Linked DNA regions of Homo sapiens: region 1 is linked to region 2. A link means that fine-mapping ties the variant in region 2 to the expression of a gene that starts in the linked region. Tissue or cell type: whole blood. Region 2 holds a variant in brackets; the other region holds the start of a gene. All regions are shown on one strand. Distances are between the middles of the regions. Region 1 holds the start of SAP30 (Sin3A associated protein 30). Region 2 overlaps LOC112268474 (a long non-coding RNA gene).

Region 1 (12,153 bases), 43 kb after region 2:
TAGTACCTATTGAAATATTTCATCATGGTGGGCAATAACTATATTTATGTTACATTAATGTATTGTACAACCCCAAAAGAACTTGATCTTTTAAATCAAAATTAAAGAAAAATTAATTAGATCTGTGTTGCCCAACCAAGGATAAAAAATTTTAGCTAAATAGTTAATATATTAGATTTTAACAATGTTAAAAAGCATTCTGCCAAATAAATGTAACTTCTATTCATATTTCATTTTATTCAATAGGCACATTTTAGAAAATGTTGGGTAACTACTAAATCCATGCAAAGAATATGAGAAAACTGATTTATATTTCTACACTTCTATTTTGTCTAGTAGGCCAAATTTTCTTTTTTTAGAGATGGAGTGTTGCTATGTTGCCCATGGTGACTCAAACTCCTAGGCTTAATCAATCCTCCTCAGTAGCTGCAAGTAAAAATTTTTATTTTAAATATGATTAAAATATATATATATAAATCTATAAACATCTTAATAAGATGCACAGATTTCTTGGTTCTATTATATCCTGAAAACATATGCATGCTCCGTTAACTTTTCACAACTCAGTGACTGACTAGAAGTCCTCTATCAAAGCAAACTACAAGTAAAAGCTTGGGTAAAAGAAAAGCTTTTGCCTCTTCTAGATGTGAAAAAAACATGGATGTCTCTAATAAAACAAACATCAACAAGGACAAATTTTGAAATAGTTAAGTCAGCAAATTATAAAAATACTGTTTAGGGTCTGATTTGTAGGCCTATTCCACCACTTTAAAATATAAATTCTAATAAGGACATTAAAGCTTGTTAATTAATTTTATTATGCCTCAATTAGGTGCTCAAATGTTTACTGGTTAAACGGAGTTTTAAAATTAATAGATTTCTAAAGTGAGGATTAAAAAAACTCTCATTCAACATTTTGAGGGCCAGGCACGGTGGCTCACACTGGTAATCCCAGCACTCTGGTAGGCTGAGGTGGGCAGATCACTTGAAGTCAGGAGTTTGAAACAAGTCTGGCCAACATGGTGAAACCCTATCTCTACTAAAAATATTATACAAAAATTAGCCTGGTGTGGTGGTGCACACCTGAAGTCCCAGGTACTTGGGAGGCTGAGGCTGGAGAATTGCTTGAACCTGGTAGGTAGAGGTTTCAATGAGCCAAGATCATGCCACTGCACTCCAGCCTGGGTGACAGAGTGAGATTCTGTCTCAAAAAACAATCAACACATTTTGAAAGCCAGTATCAGAAGGTGCTGTACACAATCTACTAAGCAGTCATTACAAAAAGGAATTTCCTAAGTGGCAGACAAACATTTCTACACAACTAGATTCTTCCACAACAGATTTTTTAACTTTGTTCTTTCTAATTAAAATGTACTGTTACATACACTACATTAAAACTTCCATTAGCACTTAATAACCTCTCGGTTGTGCAGATAGTTCAAATAGTTTAAAACTCATATATACCTCAACAAGTTGTGCTTTATTAAGTCCTGGTCTGGTTGGTAGCTTGAAGTGTCTTTTGTATCTCCTAAGTGTATTTACTTGTAATTGGTATAAATCAACCTAGAAAAAATTAACATGTATAAATGAGTTCATACAATTTGTTGAAAATTTATCATTGATATGTATAATAACAAACATTTTAACTTCAGCACAATAAAATTTACTTCCAAAATCAAAAAAAATTTAAAAAATTTATATAATCCAACATAAATTATTAAAGAATTTAATCTTTTGGGGATAAATAATATAAACTGAGGTCAAAAAAAGAGTAAGTTATGTGACAACAGAGCTGCAAAAATTGTCAATCTAAAATGTAACAATTCAAACTGTGTAAATGCATGTCAACTGGCTATATTTAATTTTGCTTTCATTTTCAGATTTCTCAAATGTTTTAAACACTTAAAAGATTGTTCATATCTTTTTATAAAGGCTTCAGAATGCACTACTTAGGATTTACATTAAGCATAAAAAACTTCCATCTACCTCTGGGGTATCAATATCTTGAACAGGTGAATCACCTCCATCATCATCACTCCCTTTTCTCTTTCTTCTGTTTCGAACACTCTGAATTAAGTTTTTATGATAATCACATATGTAAAGATGCCTTGCCTGAAACAGAAAAGTTTTACACACTGCTTATGATTACAGTAAAATGTGTCTATGTATTAGTAAAACACATATGCCACAGTGAGTTCTTAAAAATAAAGACAGCCAAGATGGGCCATTGTTAAGATAATGGAATATTTATACGTTTAAATCCTATACGCTAAAACATAAGATGTCTGGAATACTGTTAAAAGGATGGTGGATGGGGAAGGAGGGGTTGGTTCCATCTGGGGAAGGGGGTAAGGGAGGGAGGGAGAGGAGAATGAGAAATTCCAACCCTCTGGGTTTTGTCATCAAATTGCAGTGAGGGGCTGGGCGCGGTGGTTCACGCCTGTAATCCCAGCACTTTGGGAGGCCAAGGCGGGTGGATCACTTGAGCTCAGGAGTTCCACACAAGCCTGGCCAACATAGTGAAATCCCGTCTCTACTAAAAATACAAAAAATTAGGCGGGCATGGTGGCAGTAGCCTGTAATCCCAGCTACTCAGGAGGCTATGGCAGGAGAATCACTTGAACCTGGTGGTTGGAGGTTGCAGTGAGCCGAGATCGCGCCACTGCACTCCAGCCTGGGCAACAGAGTGAGACTTTGTCTTAAATAAATAAACAAACAGATAGCAGTAAGGATGACCTGAATTAGTTCATGTTGAATTTTTAACTGATGAGGGGAAAGATGATGTTGCTCACAGTTTTGCTACTTGACAGTACTTTCTCTACTTAAAAGAACAGCATATTTTAGTAATATAATGTATGCTTTCCAGTCTTTCTAACTGAATACCCAAATTATAGTCCAGATACAAAACCATTCGTTTTCACAAATGAGCCATCGACTTCAAAACTATATTTAAATTTCAGTTATACATTTTTCTGAATATTAAATCAATGTATTTATCTATAACACATTTTTCCAAAACAATCTGAAATTATGCAAGTTCACCTGAAGAGTTTCTCATGGATAACACTGAAAACTGTTTAAACGGGCAAAAAGTGTCACAAATAAACTTTTCAAAAACTTTAATTACATATACTCCTGCGAGCTGTAGACTAGCATTTGAAACAAACACGGACTGAGCTAACAGGCTTTTACATTTACTTCTAAGCCAAGCGCAAGATAAAAATATGCAGGACTTGTGGTAGGTTCTCGATACCATGTTATTCATTTACCGCTAGCCAGATCTCCCAAAAGTAGCAACGGCTGTTTCTAAAAACCTCATAGATGGTCAAACGAAAAGACGTGCAAAAAATCCTGATGGCTGCCAAGGGGATGGCAAAACCGCAGAGGCTACGTGCTCCCCACCATCGGAGTAGCTGCCCTCGGAGCTGACAGCGCAAACGCCGTTTACAACCCCGGCTCACTGCCAGGCGGCGGGTGAGCTCGGCTTCCCTCTCACTCCGCTCCGGAGGAGACGGAACACAGAAAAGAACAGGATCTTCCTTGTTCGTGAAGGTCCTCCGCTTTCTCCTAGACGACGGGATTTAGTACCGCCTGGGGCCAAACACCAGCTTGGGCAGCAAAACAAAGGCGCCTCCATTCCAGAAGAGCTGCCGGGCTGCAAGAAAACTACTCTGGGCCCTCAGTGCGCCGGTCCCCTTTGTTTCGTGTCCCGGTCGCAGAGGAGAAGGAAGAGGGAAGACTGCGCGGGAGAGACGCAGGCAGCGGGAGGTTGGGGGCCAGGGTGGGAAAGAAGAGGGGAACGACAGCCTGTGTGTGGTGTGTGTGTTGGGGTGGCGGTAGGAGTTGCAGCGACTTTGTTATTTGCTTCCAAACACAGACTCCACGAGACCGCACTGCAGCCAGTGCGGTTGTCTGGGGGACCCCGCCGACAACCCGTGCCTTTGCCCGGCTCCTGGGGCCCCACCGAGGGGCGGGAGGGCAGGGCGGTCCCGCGGTTTACTTACGCTCTTATCCAGCTCGATCTTCACCTTCTTCTGGGAGATGCTCTTCTGGATCCTCTTGCTGAAGCTGGCGTTGCCTGCCGCCCGGCCGCACCGCTCACCATCCTCCCGCAGGCAGCACAGTTGCCCGGGGCCCGGCCCGGCCGCCCCCGGGGGCCCAGCCGCTGAGACCGCCCCCGCGCCCGGCACCTCAGCCCCGGTGCCCGCGCCGGTCCCGTTCCCCGCCGAGGCGGCGGCGGCCGCGGCAGCGACCACTGCGGCCACTGCGGCGGCCGCATCCCCGCCGCGGCTCATCTCGTCAGGCGTGAAGCCGTTCATGTCTCCGAGCTCCCGAGGCCGGCGCTGACAGAAATCCCCTCTCTCCTGGCCGCTCCGCCTCTCTCCGCTCCGGCAGCGGCAATTCACTCTGCACACCAAGTTAGACAGCGGCACGGCCAAACACCAACTGTCCCGGGCCTGCTGGTCTCTGCTGGCACCGAAACAGTGGACAGTGCTGAGGGCCGGGACGCAGACTCGAGCGTCTCCTGGAGCGGGGACCCCGCTCACTGTCACATGGGGACTTCAGCAGTTGGACCGCTACGCCTCCGCCTCCCTCCGGCCCCGGGACCTGCGCAAGCGCGACGCGCCCCCTCCCGTCCCGCCCCTTTCTTTCTGCCGCGCGGCCCCATGGGAATTGTAGTTCTCTGCTGCAGAGTCAACCTGAGCTCCGCCCTGACCCCGCGCCATGAGGGACGGAGGAACTACTAATCCTAGCATGCATAGCGCGGCCACGGACCCACTTTTTTTTTTTTTTTTTTTTTTCAGTACCGGGAAAACAGGAGCGTGTGATTGGGGTTTACAGTGTTTTCTCTCGCTCTCTCTGTTTCTAGGGAATTCGGGCTGTGTTTAGCTGCTGGAATATCGTAGAATTGGTTTTCAGAGAAGTTCCTCGACTCCTGAGGCGAAACATAAAGGGATGGGAGTGGTGTGGGAAGTGATCGTGTGGGGAAAAAAAAGTTTCGAGCCCGTTTCGCATTTGTGGAGACAGAGTTTTTGGTGTGACCACTCTTTTGTGGGAAACCCAAACCAAGGAGAACTCAGGAGAATTGGCGCTCTTCGGTCCTGGAGGTTCCGCAGCTAACATCCCGGCTTGACCAACTATCGAGGCCGCAAATTAATAGGGCACCTCCTGGGAGGAAAACGCCCATCCTGACTTCTCAACTGTGACAGGTCCCCCTCACAAACGCCTTGCGGGGGGGTGGGGGGGCGTTTCTAAACACTTGCATGTTCTTACAAGGGAAATGTTTTTATTCTTGGGCGCACCAAGTTGGCCGCCTCCTGAGGTGGAGTACGGACCAGTTGACAACAGGGCTCCTTTTCACCTCCACGCCCAACCTTTTCCATTTCTCCTCAAACGGTTTTGGAGAAGGGCGGAGTCATATCATTTTAAAGGAAACTTGGAACCTCACCAATACAAACGCTGGTCGAATGTTCCCAGAAACTTCCCTGCATTAGCTCTACCGGGCGCGGGGAGCAGAAAGCGCATTTCCTGAGTCCTGAAAAGCGCGTGCGCGCCTGTGTGCTGCCGGCGTTTGGGCGCGCCTGCTTGTATGTATGTGTTCGCGGGCGCGCGCGTGTGTACGTGTGTGTGCGCGCGTACGCGTGTATGTTCCTGCGCGCTTGCGGGGACGTGCTTGTGGAGGGCGGAGAGAGGGATGGGCGTGGCTAATATGAAAGCTGCATCTTTACTAGTTAGCTACCATGCGTCATTATTTATCAAAAGATATATGCTGCTTAAACACAAATACGTTTTAAAATATATTTTAGGCAGTAGGGTTTTGGGTTTTTTTTTTGCAAGTTCTTTTGGTGAGTAAATTTAGTGATAAATGATTTTTTTTTCTTTTGAGACAGTTTGCTCTGTCGCCCAGGATGGAGTGCAGTGCAGTGGCGCGATCCTGCAACCTCCGCCTCTCGAGTTCAAGCGATTCTCCTGCCTCAGCCTCCCGAGTAGCTGGGATTACAGACGCGCGCCACCCCACCCAGATGATCTTTTTAAATGCAAAATGCCATCGACGCAGAAAATCAAAGGTATCCATTGTATCTGTGCGTTTGAGTTCTAGGATATGACAAAGAAAAACAATTTAAATATTACGTAAATTCAGTAGGAAAAAGAAAGATGATGACTGATAAGTACATTGTGTACCTCCTTAAGCTGTGCTGTCCAGTAGGCTGTCCTCTAGCCATATGTGGCTACTCAGCACTTGAAATGTGGTTGAGACGGAAAAACTGAATCGTTAATTGAATTTGAATTAAACAAAAACCAAAAACCTGATGCTCGATTCAATTGTTGGAATACTTTTAAGTGTGTTTGCAACAACTCAGATATATGAATCTGTTTTTCCAACTTAAATTTTATGAACTCTAACTTTAGCATATGAATTGAGATGTGCTGTAAGTATATATCAGCTGGACTTTTTTTTTATTTCTGGACTTACTACAAGAAATTTTCAAAAAGAATATTGAAGTGCACATTAAAAATTTTTATATATGTTTAAATGTTTTGGATGTAATGGGTTAAACAAAATATTACAATAAATTGTACCTGTTGCATTAGATAACACTGGCTTAAAGTATTACAACACAGTAGGGCGTGGTGGCTCACGCCTGTAATCCCAGCACTTTGGGAGGCCGAGGAGGGTGGATCATCTGAAGTCAGGAGTTCGAGACCAGCCTGGCCAACATGGTGAAACTCCGTCTCTATTAAAAATACAAAAATTAGGCAGGCATGGTGACACAAGCCTGGGGTTCCAGCTACTTGGGAGGCTGAGGGAGGAGAATTGCTTGAACCCAGGAGGCAGAGGTTGCAGTGACCTGAGATTGCACCACTGCACTCCAGCCTGAGCAACAGAGCGAGACCCTGTCTCAAAAAAAAAAAAAAATTACAACACAGAATAATTATATATTTATGGATACATGTTATATATTTATGGATACATTTTCTTAAGTGGTAAAAATGAGAATATATGGATGGGATGATACATCCCAACTTCAGGGTGATGCTCATCTCCAACGAAGGAGGCCAAGGAATTTGTATATGGTGTCAGAGTAAACATAAAATATAAAGAGATGAATTTCTAAATTTAATGGTTTTTTGGGGAAGCAAGAATTGCAGTTCAGGACATACACACAGACTGAGTGGTCTTTAGTATGTCAGAAGAACAAAGAGAAGGTCGAGAGTTTTATTAGAAAGAGAAATGTTGCTACTGTTTTGAAAGAAGGTTCATTGGCACTATAGTAAAGTTTTGGGAAGCTGGCAAGCTCTGATTGGTGAGTGAGAGTGGTAGATAAAACCAGTCTTAGTCATAGGAGATTGTTTCAGCAACTACTCGGTAAAACTGGTCTTAGAGTTACTGCAGGCCGTTTCAGCAGCTGGGTTGTAAAAAACTTAATTCTTAATGCTAGAGCTGTGTGCCCTGATTGCTTTCTCCCCTGGTCCCTCGATTCTGATTTAGTTGGGTATGACAAGAATGATCCAGATTGTATGATCAATTTTCACACTGGGAATGGCTTAAAGATGGTTTCTTCTGAATTTTAAAGTTTTTATTTATTAAAAATATCTGAAACATGACAGTGGGATGTTGAATTTTCATATTTTTCTTTGTACATTTATGTGTTTTTAAAATAGTTCATGAAATTCATATTGTTTGGTTCTTGTGCTTAAAAAAGCTTATATCTTCTGCAAAATGTGACCAAATCATGTAAATTCAGTAGGAAAAAGAAAGATGCTTACTGATAAGTACTTTGTGAATCTCCTTAAGCTGTGCATGTATGTATATGTATAGTTATCAGTTTCATATGAAGCTTACTCAAGTAAAGAACTGTAGCTATGGCTCCTTTACACACAATACAATGGTTGTAAAAAGATCCTATTAAACAGTCACTTGTTGCATGCTAGAATCTTTTTCTAGGCCCTGGAGGCACAAAAATAATTGAGAGGGTCCTAGCTATTTGGGAGCTTCTTGTCTAGTAGGGCAGACAGGTAGCTTAACAAGCACATAATACAAACCTCAATAACAATAGAGAGAAAGTACAGGCATAGCACATAGGAGGAAATGATTCATTTCTGGCAAGTTGAAAAGATTGCTGGAGTAGGGGACATGTTAATTCTCACTGCCAGATTTAAAGTGTATCTTGAGTGAATCTATTTGTTTAGATACATTTTTACAACCATGTTTTGTTACTTATTTCTACAAATCTTCATATTTAGGGCAGGTATAAGAACTCTTTGATTTGAGTGTAACTCACAGTCAAGGTTGGAATCAGGTTTTAGGGGGGCTTCAAGATTATATAATCTGAAAGGTCTTTTTAAAGAAGTATGTAAAATTATGAATGCAAAATTAAAATTAGGTACAGGACTTCATAAGGGTCTATCCAAGTGAGGGACTCTGAAGTTTGAATCCTTTAGCTTCACAGTAAATCTACCTCAGAGTAGACTAGGTAAAAAATATAGATCTATGAAACCTTAATTATAGGGGGGTTGTTCATATCAACAAAAATGCTCTTTGCTTTCTAAAATGGTTCAAAATATGATTCTTAAAAAAGTATGTATCCGTGCCTGTCTTCCCTATAGGCTTTTAACATGATTGCATTTTTCTGGCTTTACTTTAAAATAAGCAACTAAATAATTTTATTTAATTTACAAAAACATATAAATTGGCCAATAATCCCAACATGACCACAGTAGAAAATTCAAATAATACAAAAAGGTTCATATGAAAAACAAAAGCCTGTTTTACCTCATCTCCTCAAATCCCTGTCCCTTGAAGCAACCAGTGTTAACAGATTATTGTTTCCTTCTAGAAAAAAGTATGCATTTACTAGTATATACATCTCTATATGTGAATAATTCTATATTTTACAGCAAAAGTTCATTCCGTTTTACACCACCTTTCCTTTATCTAGTTTTAAACTCAGCCATCATACAGAAAATTGTATAAAGCATGAATGTCCAGTTTAAGCAGTGCTGTGGTTTCAGTGTTTGTGTGTGTCCCCTCCCAAATTCATTGTGAAACTCAATCCCCAATGCAACAGTACTAAGAGGTGGGGCTTTTAGGAGGTGGTGAGGCCACCCTCATGAATGTGATTAGCGCCTTATGAAAGGGATAGAGGGGGCGAGTTTACCCCTTCCATCTCTTCCACCATGTGAGGATGCAGCAAGAGGCACCATCTTGGAAGCACAGAGCAGCCTCCACCAGACACCAAGATCAAATCTTGATCTTGAACTTCTCAGCCTCCAGAACCTTGAGAAAATAAATTTCTGGTTTTTATAAATTACTGAGTCTCAACTATTTTGTTATGGCGGCACAAATGAACGGAGACAAGCAGTTATGGTAAAATGCACATCCGTATAACTGCTACCCAGGTCAGGAAAGAGAACATTGCTGAAAGGGCCAGCTTCAGGGACTTGCAGTGGCACAGGACCCCAAGCTCAGAAGCCAACATGCTCCACTCTCCTCCTCCTTCCTGCTTGACATTTAATGCCCTGCAATCACCATCATGTAATTCTCAATAATTTTATCTTTGAATTTGTGTTTTATCAGTGAAGTATCAATGGGACAATGCATTGATTCAGGCAACATGGGCCTCCTGCCACCTCCCTTCCTCCCCAGAATGAGTTCTGGCTGCTCACTCTCTCCACTCCACCCCACCCCACCCTCTGCTCTGGCAGAGGCTGAGCAGGAGGTACGGTGCAGGAAGTGTCTGGCTGAGGTGCAGGATCCTCCCCATTTCCTCTGAACCAGGAGTCAGGCCCCTAGCTCCTTTGGGTCAGTTTTCCACCTGTGCCCAAGGGAGTGCCACATTAAATAGCAAATAAGAAAACACCATGTGAGGAGAAAGAGAGGGAGGGAGAGAAAAAAGATGTTTGTTCTGGACACCACAAATTATGTAGATGGCCCTGATTGACAACATGCCAGAAAGCCATCACCTGCCACTTCTTCATCATAAATCCCATCTCCCAGCTAGCAGGAGTAGCTATCTTGACTTTTATGGTATTTGTTACCTCGTTTTTCATTACAGTTTTGCCACATAGTTCTTCAACTTTTTTTTTCAGTTTTGCTGTTTTTGAACTTTATATAAGTGGACTCATATACTTTATATTCTGTTTTCTTTGGGTTCATTTACTCTGTTTTTCAAAGGTCTACTTTTATGTAGTTTAATTCTTTCTCTTCATTATGGTATGAATAAACTACAATATATCCATTCTATTGTTGATAGACATATGGATTGTTTCCCGTTTAGGGCTATTAAAAGAATGTTGCCATGAACATTCTTATTCTTGTACATGTATCCTGATACATACGTGACTGCAGGTCAGTAAGATATATATGTTGTTAAGTTGGAGTGAGAACTTCCAGCTCCTTGCTTACATATGTAAACAGAATTGCTGAGTTTTAAGGTAGGCGTAGATTCAACTTTACTAGATATTTCCAAACTTTTACACTTCCTTAAGCAATATATGAGAGTTCTGTATCTTTGCCTACCATTTGATATTGTACTTTCTAAAAAAGATCAAGTAGGTATGTATGGTATCTAATTGTGATTTTAATTTGAACATTCTTAGTTACTAATGAGATTATATATTAATTGGTCTTTTGGATTTCTCGTTTGGAAGTTCCTAGTTAGGTCTTTTGCCTATTTTTCTATTGGGATTGTGTCTTTTTCTGTTGATTTGTAGTAGTTATTCATGTTTTCTGAATAACAGCCTTTTCACAATTTTACATATTGCACACATCTTTGCCTACTTCATAATTTGCCTTTTGACTCTGCAGTGGCAACTTTTGTTTAAAGTCTTTTAATGAGGAAAAAATATATCTATCTTTTCTTTTCTGACTGATGATTTTTGTGACTTAAGTAAGTTCCTTATCCCCAAATCATGAAGATATTTTTCTACATTATCTTCTAACAGCTTCATTGTATTGCCTTTCTCATTTAAGATTATGATTGATTTTTGTGCACAGTGGTTGAGGTACAATTTTATTTTGTATATGCTACCCATTTGACCAAGTACCATTCACTGGAAAATCTATCCATATTCCATTCTTTTACAGTGTCACCTTTGTCATAAATCAAGTTGTATGTATGTAGGTCTGTTTCTGAAGCCTAGTCTTTCCATTGTACTTTGCCAATTCCACAGTCTTAATTATAAAAGTCGTTCAGAAAAATTTTGATAACCTAGAAGTATAGATCTTCTACCTTATTTTTTTTTCGTCAAAACACAGACTTGGTTATTCTTGACCCTTTGTATTTCCTTATACATTTTAGAATCAGCTTAAGTTCCAGAAAAAAGAAAAACCAACCAAATGAACAATAAGACAACAACAACAACAACAAAAAAGGCCTTTTGGGATTTTGGATGATATTGCATCAAATCCATACATTAACCTGAGAGACGAGCGACTTCTTCAACATTGAGCCTTCCAATCATGATTTTCAATTCATTTAGGTCTTCTGTAATGTTTCTTAATATAATTGTATTTGTTGCTATGCAGAAGTTTCACTGATCTTTTATTATATCTCTATATATATTTGATATTTCTGACACTATTGTAAATAGTATCTTTTTAATATTTCATTTTCCTTTTTTGTTGCTTAAATATATATAAAATAAGCTAATTTTCCAAACTAATTTTTATATCCAGCAACCCTGCTAAAATTTCTTATCCAATAAAAATATAAATGTATTTGTGTTTGGGTTTCAATGCATTCAATCATACCATTTTCAAATCGTTGAGTTTTCCTTCATTTTTTATTCCCTTTTTTCTTGTGCTACTACAGGTTCAGGACTCTAGAACAACATTATAAAAGAGGTGTTAGCAGGCAAAAATGTCTCATTTCCAGTTTCAAAAGAAAGGCTTTTCATGTTTCGCTATTATGTATCATGTCTGATACAGATTTTTTTGTTTTTCATCTAAATTTTTATACCATTTATATGTTCATAACAACCTCATGTTTTTAAGGTGTGCAAGATCTGACCCAGTGTCCCTATCTTCATCATCAATTATTAGTGCCTTCTCTCTTTTGTTAATCAGTCTCACCAGTGTTCTATCAATTTTATTAGGCTTTTCAGAGGACCTGAATTTTGTACATAGTTTTTATTGTATTTTTTTCTATT
Region 2 (12,153 bases):
AGTTATAGCTGACCCACAGTCAACCTGCATTTATCATGAAACATGAGCAAGAAGTAAATATTTGTTTTTTAAGCCACCACCAAATTATTCATGTGGCAATCCACACTGACCACTGAGACAACTGGAATGAACAGGTCCTTATAGAAACACAGACATAAAATTACTTGCAGGTCCAAGGTGTGTTGCAGGTCTCTGAATTTTACTTTGTTCATCTGCGGAACAAGAATAAGATCACCCTACTGCAGTGGCTCACACCTGTAGTGCCAGCTACTTGTGGGGCTGAGGTGGTGGGAGGATCGCTTGAGCCCAGGAGTTCAAGGCTGCAGTGAGCTCTGATCACACCACAGCACTCCAGCCTGGATGACAGAGCAAGACCTCCTCTCTGAAAAAAAAGAAGGAATGAAGGAAGGGAGGAAGGAAGGAAGGAAGGAGGGAGGGAGGGAGGGAGACTAGTTATGAAGAAGAAATGAGATCATGAGGTCATGTCTGTAAATGCATTTAGCACAATAACTGGCTTATAATAAAGGATCAGTAAATGCTAGTATTCTTTTTTTGTCTTTTTCCAAAGGTGGCATCCCTCTAGCCCAATTCCTTTGGAGGCTTAGGGGGCAACTGGGGCATGCTGGAAAATTGAGGAGTCTAGAATTCAAGAACTATGGATTCAATTCTGTTTCTAAATCTGCATACATTCCTAATCTATAAAATGAGGCATCTGTCTAAATGATCTCTAAGGTTCCTTCCAGTGCTAAAGATCCTCAATTTGGGGTAAAACATGCCTGTAGATGCTTGTTTTTTCTCCAGAGGTGCTGTTTAGTTTTAACACCAGGTGGCGCTAAATAACAACTAAATGTAAAAAGACAAAGGCTCTGTGTGTGTGTGTCTGTCTGTCTGTGTGTGTCTCTCTGTCTGTGTGTGTCTGTGTGTGTGTGTGTTGTGTGTGATGATGTGATTGTGTTTGTGTTGTGTGTGAAGATGTGATTGTGTGTGGGGTGTGTGTGAAGATGTGATTGTGTGTGGGGTGTGTGTGAAGATGTGATTGTGTGTGGGGTGTGTGTGTGGTGTGTGTGATGATGTGACTGTGTGTGTGTGTGTGTGTGTGTGTGTGTGTGTGTGTGTGTGTTTGGGTGTGTGTGTGATGATGTGATGAAATCCGGAGAGTTCTAGGCTATTTCTATTTTCTTCTTATGTGTATATTCTTATAAAGCAGAACTCTTGCAGCTGATGGTTCCTCAGAAACCATCACTCTGAGGAAATGGCTTCCAAAAACAAACCAAGCACGCTAGTCCTAGAGGCCGTCACACGAAGGGAGAGGGCCCCAGGAGCCGGGGGATAGCCCCAGACGCTTTCTAGGTTTGACTTTGAAATTTGGTTTCAAACTTTTACAATTAAAATAATTTATTTTTATTATTTTTAAGAGACGGGGTCCCACTCTGTTGCCCAGGCTGGAGTGCAGTGATGCAATCATAGCTCCCTGCAGCCTGCAACTCCTGGGCTTAAGCGATCCTCCCACCTCAGTCTCCTCAGTCACCCGGACCACAGGCGCGCCACCGCGCCTGGCACTGGAGTTTGAAATTTGGAAACTTCCTTCCTTTTGAGCAGAGGTATGAGATCATCGGAGCTGTGCTGTAGGACGATATATCTAGCAGCCACAAGATGGGCACAAGGAGTGGCTGGCAGCGGGGAGCATCGTTTGGGAGGTTCTTATGGCAGACAGGATCTGCGCACAGGCGTCTGAGCCGTGCGTTGGGAGTGAGCATGGAAATGAGGAGGCCGTTGTCGGGACAGAATCCCTCCCACTTGGCAAATGTTTAAATAAAGAGGCTTTGAGCAGGATAAGTCATCGTAAGAGATGACACTCAGATAACTAGGAAAACGTTAGGGCCTCTGACTGGAAGTGGGCAGATGACTTTGGGGCGGCAGTATTGCTGCTGTCCCTCCCTGGCTCATCTACACTGCGGGAGAGGAGACTGCACGGCCCCTGCCCTCCCAGGTACTCAAAACACCCCGAGGCGCACATGCTGGTCTTACCAGGGCCTCCTAGAGACTTGCCAGTGGGGCGCTTCAATATGACAATCAGCCTTTTTTTCAAAATATGTTTTCTTTCGCATGATTTTATTGGTGGTGCTTTAAGACCCTATGTCATTTCTCCAGCTCTTGGTGTGTTCATGCAGCCACACAGCACAGTGGAAGGAGCAATGGATTTGGAGGCAGATAGGCCTGGTTTAAATCCTGAAACCTCACTTCTCCTGTATAAAACTGACCAGAAGAGATCATGTTTGTTTTAGGCTTCTAAGGTTCTTAATTAAGTAACTTGGGCACGCTATTTGGTTTCTCTGAGCCTCAATCCTATCCAGAACAAAGGTGAAATACCTGTAATACCAATGTCACAGATTTGCCATGAGAAATAAAGGTCGTTTGGAGACAGACTAAGTAATTGGTAAATGCCAGTTCTCTTTCCCTTTAAAGAAAAGGCTATTTGGAGGCCCCTGTGTGAGTCTGTCAGACAAATTCAGCATCAGCACAGAGACTGATATAATGGCCATGGTTATCTGGGGCCACTTTTTGCAAGAAATGCTGAGCTGTCATGATACAAAACACTCAAAAATTAAATCTACTAAGCTGGCGTACAGTTTGGGACTTAGGATATTCACTGGTCCGCAAGAAATAAAAAGGAAACGGGGGTTACACAATGCATCTCTGTTCTAGTTACTCAATCTTTACCCAACTGAAACCTCACTTCACAACAGATTAGCCACAGCCCCTAAGGGCAATAAAATCCTGAATTGCAAACCCTGTTTTGCCACCTCACAGAACTTTCATAAATCTCAGCTGCAGTGAATGCATCTCCTATTTAATTTATGAAATGACTATTTTGAGAGACTATTCACACTAGTCATCTTTATTAGTCCTTCTGCCAACTCTCCAATTTGGGGGAAGAAGAAATTAACATGCAATATTAACGCTTTTATTGTGCATATAAATTTGCTGTTTTCAAGGGATATAGGGCAATATATGGGATGTGAGCCTGGTAGATAATTTCCAGAGTTGGGTCACTGCTGCTTCCCTCTTATTCTGGAGACAGGCAAAAACTACTGGTTACCAAAATACCAGTGAACAAGTGTCCTATAGCAAGCAAGCACGCAGTGCCCACCAAGGAGTGCACGATGTCAACTATTCACACCCTAGGGAGGAGAAAACTAAGAGAGAGTGCTTGAAGTGATGATGTTGCACCTTTACAAGAGTCAGGGATGAGAATGCCAGCACCAGCCACAGAAGCACACACTCTTTTCAACAGTGGAAAAATGGGGAAAGCTGTGCACCCAGCCACAGCTGCTGTGAACACAGCTGACAAGAAGCACCCTTCTAGTTCTGCTCTTGTAGATGAGAACACCCACCCCTTTCTTCATTTAACCTAAGCCATCCCCCATTCAAACGACATGATCAAGAGGGCATGAGGGCTCTGGGTTGGAGCTGTGCTTGGCAGCGTAACCTTTCCTTTCCAACTCCTTGCTTAAGGATCCCCTGTACGTCACCATGTGGCCTCACCAAGACTCACCCCATCAGGGTGAAGAAGACAGCAGGGACCACTGCAGGAAGCTGAGTTTGCTACTTGGGTAGATGCTCACAGAGTGTGAGATGCAACTTGTTTCCTAAGGTTCAGGGCTATGAGACTCCAGAATGCATTACAGAAAACATTACTTGGAATTATCCTCTGTTGATTTTAAAGAAACTGGTGAGGAGATGACTTTCTGGGCTGATTGTGTTAAATTTAAACAGGCACAGATGTCAGGGAGGAAGGCCCAGGCTGCTCCAGTGGAGCCTCACAGGATGGCAATACAGAGGAGTGGCCAAAGTGTTCCGGGGTCTGACCCTCAGCCATGCAGGTCCCAAGAGAGGATTTTGTCTGTGTTGCTGGGTGATTAGGTTGAAACTGACCCGTGCTAACCAAACTCTCAAACAAAACCCACATTTATTTATTTGTAACAGGTACACAATAAGCCTTTCCAAGGATCTCCAAACTTGTTCCCTCAATCTTGGACACATTCTGCCCATTATCAAGGTACCTGGGAGACCAAATTCATAATCAGGTTGTTGCTTGTGAACAAGGATTCAGAGCAAAAGCATTGCATAACCTTAAGGGGTGCAGCATCCAGATATTGGAGAAGACTTCTGAATGAAATGTACTTTCTAGATAATCTGAACATGAGTAGCTACCAAGAAACATGTCTCTCTCCTCTGGAAAGTTAGATAATCACAACAAATTCTCACTGCCTGGCCTCCTCTTACCTCAATATGTGCAGATTTTCTAGCTGCCACACATCCACTCACATGATTCCCCTTTTTCTTCAGATGGATCACAGTTCCTGCTGCCTGTAATCTATTCAGTCATTTTCCTGAACCTTTACCTGGCTCATCTTAACTATCCCCAATATTTGTTGCTGTTCATTACCAGCTCTCAGAGAGGGTTACTGATGGTTGCTGTTGTCAATGACTCGTTGGTTCTTATTAGCTCCTCTGATGGAATGGTTTTCGAGTTCTGGGGGCACTTTAATGCATGCATGACAAGCTCCTACAGCTTTCCTGGAGGCTGGAAGATGCCTCCTGTAGACTTGTTCAGCACCAATTGTTCTGTTCATCTGTGGAATGAGCTTGTAATGTGTTTTATTTATTTTGTCTCCACACGTTCTCACCTTCCTAGAGGAAGAGGTGAATAAACTGCCCTGCCTATCCTCACAAGAAAGTAATTTTTTCACCTTAGGTGGGCCATCTGCTTCTCCTAACAACTCTGCTTTGCCTTGAATTGAATACATCTTGTCCCAGGCATTTTGCCAGCTGTAGGCTCCAGGAAATGGAGCAACTAAAAGTGGTTTCCTTATGATGTCAAGGTCTTATTATTTTCTTTCTTTTTTTTTTTTGGAAATGCAACTTATGAGATCAACCCAAAGGAAATTGTGCATCAGTGTCCATAGGGGTGGTTCACAGAGTGGCAGGAGTCTCTGAGCAACAGTCTAAGCTGTATATGAATTTCTTAAGAATTAATCCCATTGCACATGTCGGTAGATGTGGCAGGGACCTGACAGATGGGGGAAATTGAGTATTTCCTTTAGGACTCAAAAGAGACTCCTAAGCTAGAGATTCTCAACCTGGGATGAAGATCCAAGTCACCTGCGAGGTTTTCAGTCTTCATGCCTTGGTCCCATTCAGCTGGCTGCTTCTGGTACCCAGCTGTGTGGAGAACAACTCTCCTAAGCCACTTGGAATCAAAGCTCCCAAGTTATTGGGGGAAAAGATTACCCAAGGCAAAGAGCCAGAATGTGCAGTCTTAATTCAGAAGATGGGAAGCAGTGGGACGCAACAGTAAACTGAGGGCGTTTTCTGATGTGATCATCCACAGACTCAGGATTATAGCAAGCAGTAAGTCACGAAGAGCATGAGGCAGCCTTGGGCTGGTGACCATGGGCCACTCAGGCCAACAGAGGGGATTTTCTCCTGCTTCAGCTCAGAGACAGAGTATCAGCAAGGGCAGCATCACCTGAGCGATGTTAAGAGGCAAAGCAAAACAGTAGCTCCTTCCGGGAATCAAGGCATCAACATGGGAGCCATTTTATTGAGGTGAGAAACAGAAGAAGAAATGGTAGGGATCATGAGATAGAAGAAAACAGCATTCATGGCCTTGTTCTAACATAAATGTGAGAGATGGCCTTGAGATTTGCGGAACTACTCAGAAGAGACGGGGCCATGGCTTATATTCAGCCAATACACACAGGCATGATGTTACTGCAGGTAGAAACTGGAAATTCTGCCCTGATGGTTGGTAAGTAGCTTAAGTTAGACCACATGCCACCAAATGACATCATGCAGTGGCCACTGCATGAGTGGTTTTGGGACTTGGGACTGGTGCATCTGGACAGGGCAGCATGATATAAGAAGACCAAGGTGGAAGCTGAGACAGACACAGTGCCTACTTGCTGCTCAGGAGGGGTCCAGGGTTGGCAGGAGTAGCAGAACAAGCTGGGCTAGTGACAGGGTTGTAGATGGGGCAGAAGCAAAAGTACTCTGGGTACACAGATGAGGTGAAAAACGCTAGCATTCTAAACACAGTGGGCACCCCACCCAATCACTCTCCTGCTGAGGCACATGCCTGGGACCACACCTAATAACCATCGACACAAGGAGAAGCCATTGGAAGCATTTAGTACAGTTTCCTCCATAAAACTGTAGCTTAGAGACAAGCAGCATTTAGTTTAGTGAGAGCTTACCAAACATAAGACCATACCATTAATTTCTAAAAATCAATAATGATTTAGAAATTATTAGAATGATTTGATGAAAATGTTGCCTTGTAAGCTACATTACACTGTAAACAGTTTCATGATACATAGTTTAAAGACTAGAAAGGAAATATTTTTAATTTTTATTTATATACTGATTTATAGAAATACATTTATTTATTAAAATATGCCACCATACAGGTTGCTAAATATGTTGCAATTTATCCTCAGATTGAGCAATGTGGAACTAGGGGGATGGTGATTCAGCTGATGTGGTTTGAGATGGTTGTAACCCCGA[C/A]CCCCATTCTGGGTTGGTCCAACCTGGGAAAAGATAGGTTTCACTTGATTTACAAATAAAACATTATTTACTGTTTGCTGCTGAGGACTGGGCCCACCAAACCTAGTTAGTAGTTCCAAGTCATCACTGTTCTCATACTTCCTGAATCTTTGTAGCCACAAGGTACAAACTGTACAAAAGAAATTGCTAAGTTAGGCTTTTAGTGTCTTTGCCAGGACAGTGTTAGATCAGAAGTTCATTCATTTGATAAATAGTTATTGAGTACTTAAACGGTGCCTGGCACAGTTCTAGACACTGAGGATGCATAAAACAATAAAACGGGAAATCTCTACTCTCATGTAGCCAACGAGCAATTGCAGGTGGTGGGCATTATTCAAAGGCTAATAATGATAGATGGAGCTAAGGAGGAAGTTGGAATCCCATCTCAGCACTGTCTCACTGCACACTCTGCCCTTCTTGGGTTAGAGTCACTAGAGCAACATGATTAACAGCACAGAACCCCAGAACTAGTCTACTCTGAGACAGTCAAACAACTATATGGGTGGGTGCCAGGAAAGGGCCTCTGCTCCCAATGTGCTGCTCCTTTGTCATGACCTAATATCTAAAATTCTGTCACCGAAGAAGCATTTTCTATTATAACAAGTGTTCCTTAGAGTCCAGTCTCTTGAGATATATAGTTTTTTTTAAAAAGTCCAGTAGTCAAACAAATTTAGCAAACCCTTCAGCTCTTAGAGATTCACAATGAGTTAGCATATTAAATATAATCTGTAGGGATCTCGATCAGTTTAGGACGAAAAATTTGGGGATCTCTCTTTATTTTTCCAATTGCTTGCTTAAGCCTCCATTCCTCCATATAGTAGGTAATTTGGTTTCTCTTTCTTAAGGAACCTTCATTCTCTCTGTTGTACAGAAACCTGAGAATTAACTTAGTCCAAAGGTAGTAGTCTTGTTTCAGTGGTCCATGTGACCAGTCCATTAACAGGTTCTGGTTTTAAACATAACTTCTGTACAATGTCACTGTTGAAAACTGATTCCATCAGGCTTCAGTGAGTCCTTGTCTTGCTGTAGGAATGGCCTTGCTGCTATGGAACACTGCACAGGCAGCAGGGTAGCACTGTGCATATGGACGCCCAAGACAACAGCTTATTGGGTTTACACTCACACAATCAGCCACTGTTCCCTAAACATGACAGCTTTGCCAAAGTGGCTGGGTATAATTGGGCTTCTAACCACAGCTACACACAGGATCTAGAACAAGCTGTCCCCACAAACCTCTACGCTCTGGTGTTGAACCTGTCACTGAGCCAGACTCTCTCTTCTTGGGAGACCTCAGTCAGAGCTATCTTAGCCCTTCAGAAAGTTTTACTTAGGTTGAATCTCAAATGGGACGGAGATCCCTTCCCCAGGTCTTCATCCCTTTCCTCCTGGAGGATCTTTAGCACTCGGTAAGTTTGTTTTGCCATGTCAGGGGGATACTGAAAAGAACATCCATTGTAAGGCCACAAAATGTTCTTTTTCCAGTGACATGTATATCCACTCACCTAATATTGGCATACTTAAGAGTATGCAGGGAGGCTGGATGCAGTGGCTCACACCTGTAATCCCAGAACTTTGGGAGGCCGAGGCGGACGGATCACTTGAGGTCAGGAGTTTAAGACCAGCCTGGGCAACATGGTGAAACCCTGTCTCTACTAAAAATACAAAAATTAGCTGGGTGCAGTGGTGTGTGACTGTAATCGCAGGTACTTAGGAGGCTGAGGCAGGAGAATCACTTGAGCCTGGGAGGCAGAGGTTGCAGTGAGCTGAGATTGCGCTATTGCACTCCAGCATGGGCAACAGAGCGAGACTCTGTCTCAAAAAAAAAAAAAAAAAAGTATGCAGGGAACTACCAACGCAGATCCAGGGAATTCATATCTTAGTCTATCTTGCTGCTTCTCCAGCTTCAAATGGGACATGAGTCACAACCTGGAAGGATACAGAGCATAGCACAAATAGTTTCATGGGAGCAAAAGGATAGGAAGAGACATGGAGAAAGAGAGATAAAGATGAAAATCAAAGGACAGAAAGAGATCCTAGAATAGGAGAGGCAGCTAAGCATCTGAAGGGCCCTCTGTCACACAGGTAAGGGGTATGAAAAAAGAGGTAGAAGGAAGATTTCCCCTGTTATAATGTTAAGAGGGACATGGTCTACCACAGAAGCTCCCATCTAATGTATCATAACATGTGACTTGCTTCAGGGAGAATCACATTCCCAGGGATTCTCTCCTGAATTCCTTATGCTAAACTAAAGCCCTAAAACCTCCAGGCTTATTGGTTAAAAAGTCCTCACCTCTCAGTGAGGCAGGCTTCTAATGGAGAAATCTCAGAACCTTTTAGGTCAGGAAAGAAAATCCCATTATTTGCTGAGATAGCTTTAGACTCATTAATTTTCTTTTTCTTTTCTTTTCTTTTTTTTTTTTTTTTTTTTTTTGAGACTGAGTCTTGCTCTTTCGCCCAGGCCGGAGTGCGGCGGCGCCATCTCGGCTCACTGCAAGCTCTGCCTCCGGGTTCACGCCATTCTCCTGCCTCAGCCTCCGGAGTAGCTGGGACCACAGGCGCCCGCCACCACATCCGGCTAATTTTTTGTATTTTTAGTAGAGACGGGGTTTCACCGTGTTAGCCAGGATGGTCTCAATCTCCTGACTTCATGATCCGCCTGCCTCAGGCTCCCAAAATGCTGGGATTACAAGCGTGAGCCACGGCGCCTAGCAGACTCATTAATTTTCTGACACTAAAATGGTCAAAATTTCTATGGGGAGGGGAAAGACATTGAACTTGTGTGATATTCTTAAACCCTTCATTCTCAGATACTTATCCTTCTCTATTTTCTCAAATATTTTACATAAAGTAACTTAAGACATAAAATAAACCATAGACATAAGATAGCTTAAGACACATAATAAATCACTTAAAATTGTTAAATCTTTCTAATGTCAAGATATTTACACTTGAGCCATACTGGACCAATCAACACGAGTCACTAACATAGAGTGTGGAAGCATAGTAAAAATTCTGTAAGGTAGTAACAATCCAGGGGCAATTTTTGTTAATTCACCCCCAAAGAAGGAGGCTTATTTAGAATATTAGTATTAAAGGCAAAGATTAATTTGATCAAATTGTCATTTGATAGAAGACAGTGTTATAGAAAGGTGTGGGTTTTTTTCGTAGAATTGTTGCTATGCTTTAAACTTTCAGTGGACATAGGTGACTCTCTAACACATACCCAATCCTCTGGAATAACAAGTTATATTTCATCAGGATTATACTGTATGTAATATATTTCATGTGTTTAGAGATTAAATATCCAGAGAAAATATCATCATTGCCTATTTCCTGGCATTTCATGTGTCCTATCTGATATGTATACACATAAAGGGAGCAAGTTTTAGTTATCTAATACTGTGTTGTATTTATTATTTCAGTTTGAAAATGCTTTTATTTAGATTTCCAAATATGTAATTTTTAATGTTTTATTAGTAAAGGAGCAATAAAGGAACAATTTTATAGCAAATTTAACACCTATAAATTTCCCTGTTTGCAGTGTAAAAGAAACAGCTTCCATAGACCACAGGTCTGCTCAAATTTCAAAGAATGTTAAATGAAATACTGCTAAACTGCCCTAAAGTTATCTTATTCCATAAAATAATTGCAGGTTCATTGTTTACACTTTTATACAAAATGGTGTCTGATTCTGAATGGATTTATTATATGAATGTGTTTATTATTTTTAAAATAGCTATATTTGAGAAGCTGCATAAAGGCTAGATTATTACAAATAATGATTTTAATTGACCTGAAAAATAAATGTTAAAAAGATATTGAAAACTATGTCCACACAAAACGTGCATACAAATATTTATAGCACCTCTACTCTCTTTTTTTCGTTTTTAAATGAAGTCTCACTCTGTTGCCCAGGCTGGAGTACAGTGGCGCTATCTCGGCTCACTGCAACTTCCACCTCCCAAGTTCAAGTGATTCTTCTGCCTCAGCCTCTCCAGTAGCTGGGACTACAGGGCGCTGGCCACCATGTGCGGCTAATTTTTTTTTTTAATGTATTTTTGTATTTTTAGTACAGATGGAGTTTCACCATGTTGGTCAGGCTGGTCTCAAACTCCTGACCTCAGGTGACCTGCCCACCTCGGCCTCCTAAAGTGCTGGGATTACAAGCGTGAGCCACCGCATCCAGCCCCAGCACCTCTATTTTTTTTTTTTTTTGAGATGGATCTCGCTCTGTCGCCCAGGCTGGAATACAGTGGCATGATCTCAGCTCACTGCAACTTCTGCCTCCCAGGTTCAAACAATTCTCCTGTCTCAGCCTCCTGAGCAGCTAGGATCACAGGCATGTGCCCCCATGCCTGGCTAATTTTTTGTATTTTTAGTAGAGACAGGGTTTCACCATGTTGGCCAGGCTGGTCTCAAACTCCTGACCTCAGATGATCCACCCATCTCGGCCCCCCAAAGTGCTGAGATTACAGGCGTGAGCCACCATGCCCAGCGCGCACCTCTGTTCTTAATTTCCAAAACTGTACGCAACCAAGATGTCCTCCAACAAGTGAAAGTATAAACAAACTGGTATATCTATACAATGGAATATTATTCAGTGATAAAAAGAAATTATCAAGCCATGAAAATACATAGATGAATCTTAAATGTATATTGCTAAGTGAAAAAAGCCAGTATGTAATGGCTACATACTACATGATTCCAATTATATGACATTCTAGAAGGGGTAAAACTATAGAGATGGTAAAAAGATCAATGGCTGCCAGGAGTTCAGGGTAGGAGGGAGGGGAGGGTTGAATAGGTAAACCACAGGAGATATTTTAGGGCAGAGAGACTATTCTGTATCATAATGTAATGGTATGTACAAGACACTATGTGCTTGTCAAAACCCACAGACCTTTTCAGCACAAAGACTGAACCTTAATACATGCAAATTACTAACAATTATTTAGGAGGTTGGACAATCCCAGGATAAAAACAGAATGTGACAAAACAATCTAACTTTATTACTCATGTATGAAACAACCTCACTGAAAGGCGTAGTGAGGGGGAAGTTGCAGACCTATGTAACTTTGGAAATGAGTAGAGTCTGTCAAACTAAAGGTAAAAGACACCGTATATAAACACTGTACTCCAGCTGATAAAATTGTTTACCATGAGGTATGTGCCAACAATTCCGATGCTGCTATACATGTATACTGGAAATGAACAATTAAATAAGTGGCTGATAGTAGGAGTTAGGTTCCCACTGCTGGAGCAGGAGGTTACAGATGAGCAAGAGGAGGAAGCTCAAATGATTCACGTAGTAATGGATTAGAGTTGGAGGCATCAGAATAAACTCATGTTTAGGTTGTTGTAGATACAGACAGTTATGCATAGCAATATTCATAGATATGTGTATTTACACAGGTTGGTATACACAGTATATTTCCTTGCTCTGTCAGCTGAGAGGAATGAGAAGCTATGACACACCAGTACTAGTGAGCACACCTAGCTCCCAGATCTTGGTTTCTAATTTATTCTTCAATGAAAGGAACCAGG

What was found. PIP is the estimated chance that this variant, and not a neighbour inherited with it, causes the effect.
Region 1: it holds the start of SAP30, and the variant in region 2 is the best candidate, but not a certain one, in a credible set for the expression of SAP30 in whole blood (TOPMed, PIP 0.76).

Annotation. Positions count from the first base shown.
Region 1 is chr4:173,363,349-173,375,501 of GRCh38, reverse strand. It overlaps SAP30 (Sin3A associated protein 30), which reads right to left and starts at 4,548. Exons shown (of 4, transcript NM_003864.4): 1 at 4,005-4,548; 2 at 1,987-2,112; 3 at 1,465-1,563. The coding sequence starts at 4,319. It overlaps SAP30-DT (SAP30 divergent transcript), which reads left to right and starts at 4,804. Exons shown (of 4, transcript NR_183973.1): 1 at 4,804-5,210; 2 at 5,892-6,068. RefSeq lists enhancers at 3,438-3,737, 3,441-4,004, 5,088-5,327, 7,793-7,862 and silencers at 3,858-4,237, 4,518-4,687.
Region 2 is chr4:173,405,879-173,418,031 of GRCh38, reverse strand. It overlaps LOC112268474 (a long non-coding RNA gene), which reads right to left. Exons shown (of 3, transcript XR_002959832.2): 3 at 3,952-12,153. It also overlaps a transcript of SCRG1 not described here. Among named protein-coding and RNA genes, the nearest start is that of SCRG1, 13 kb to the right of the region's middle. The variant C/A (reference allele first, on the strand shown) is at 6,571.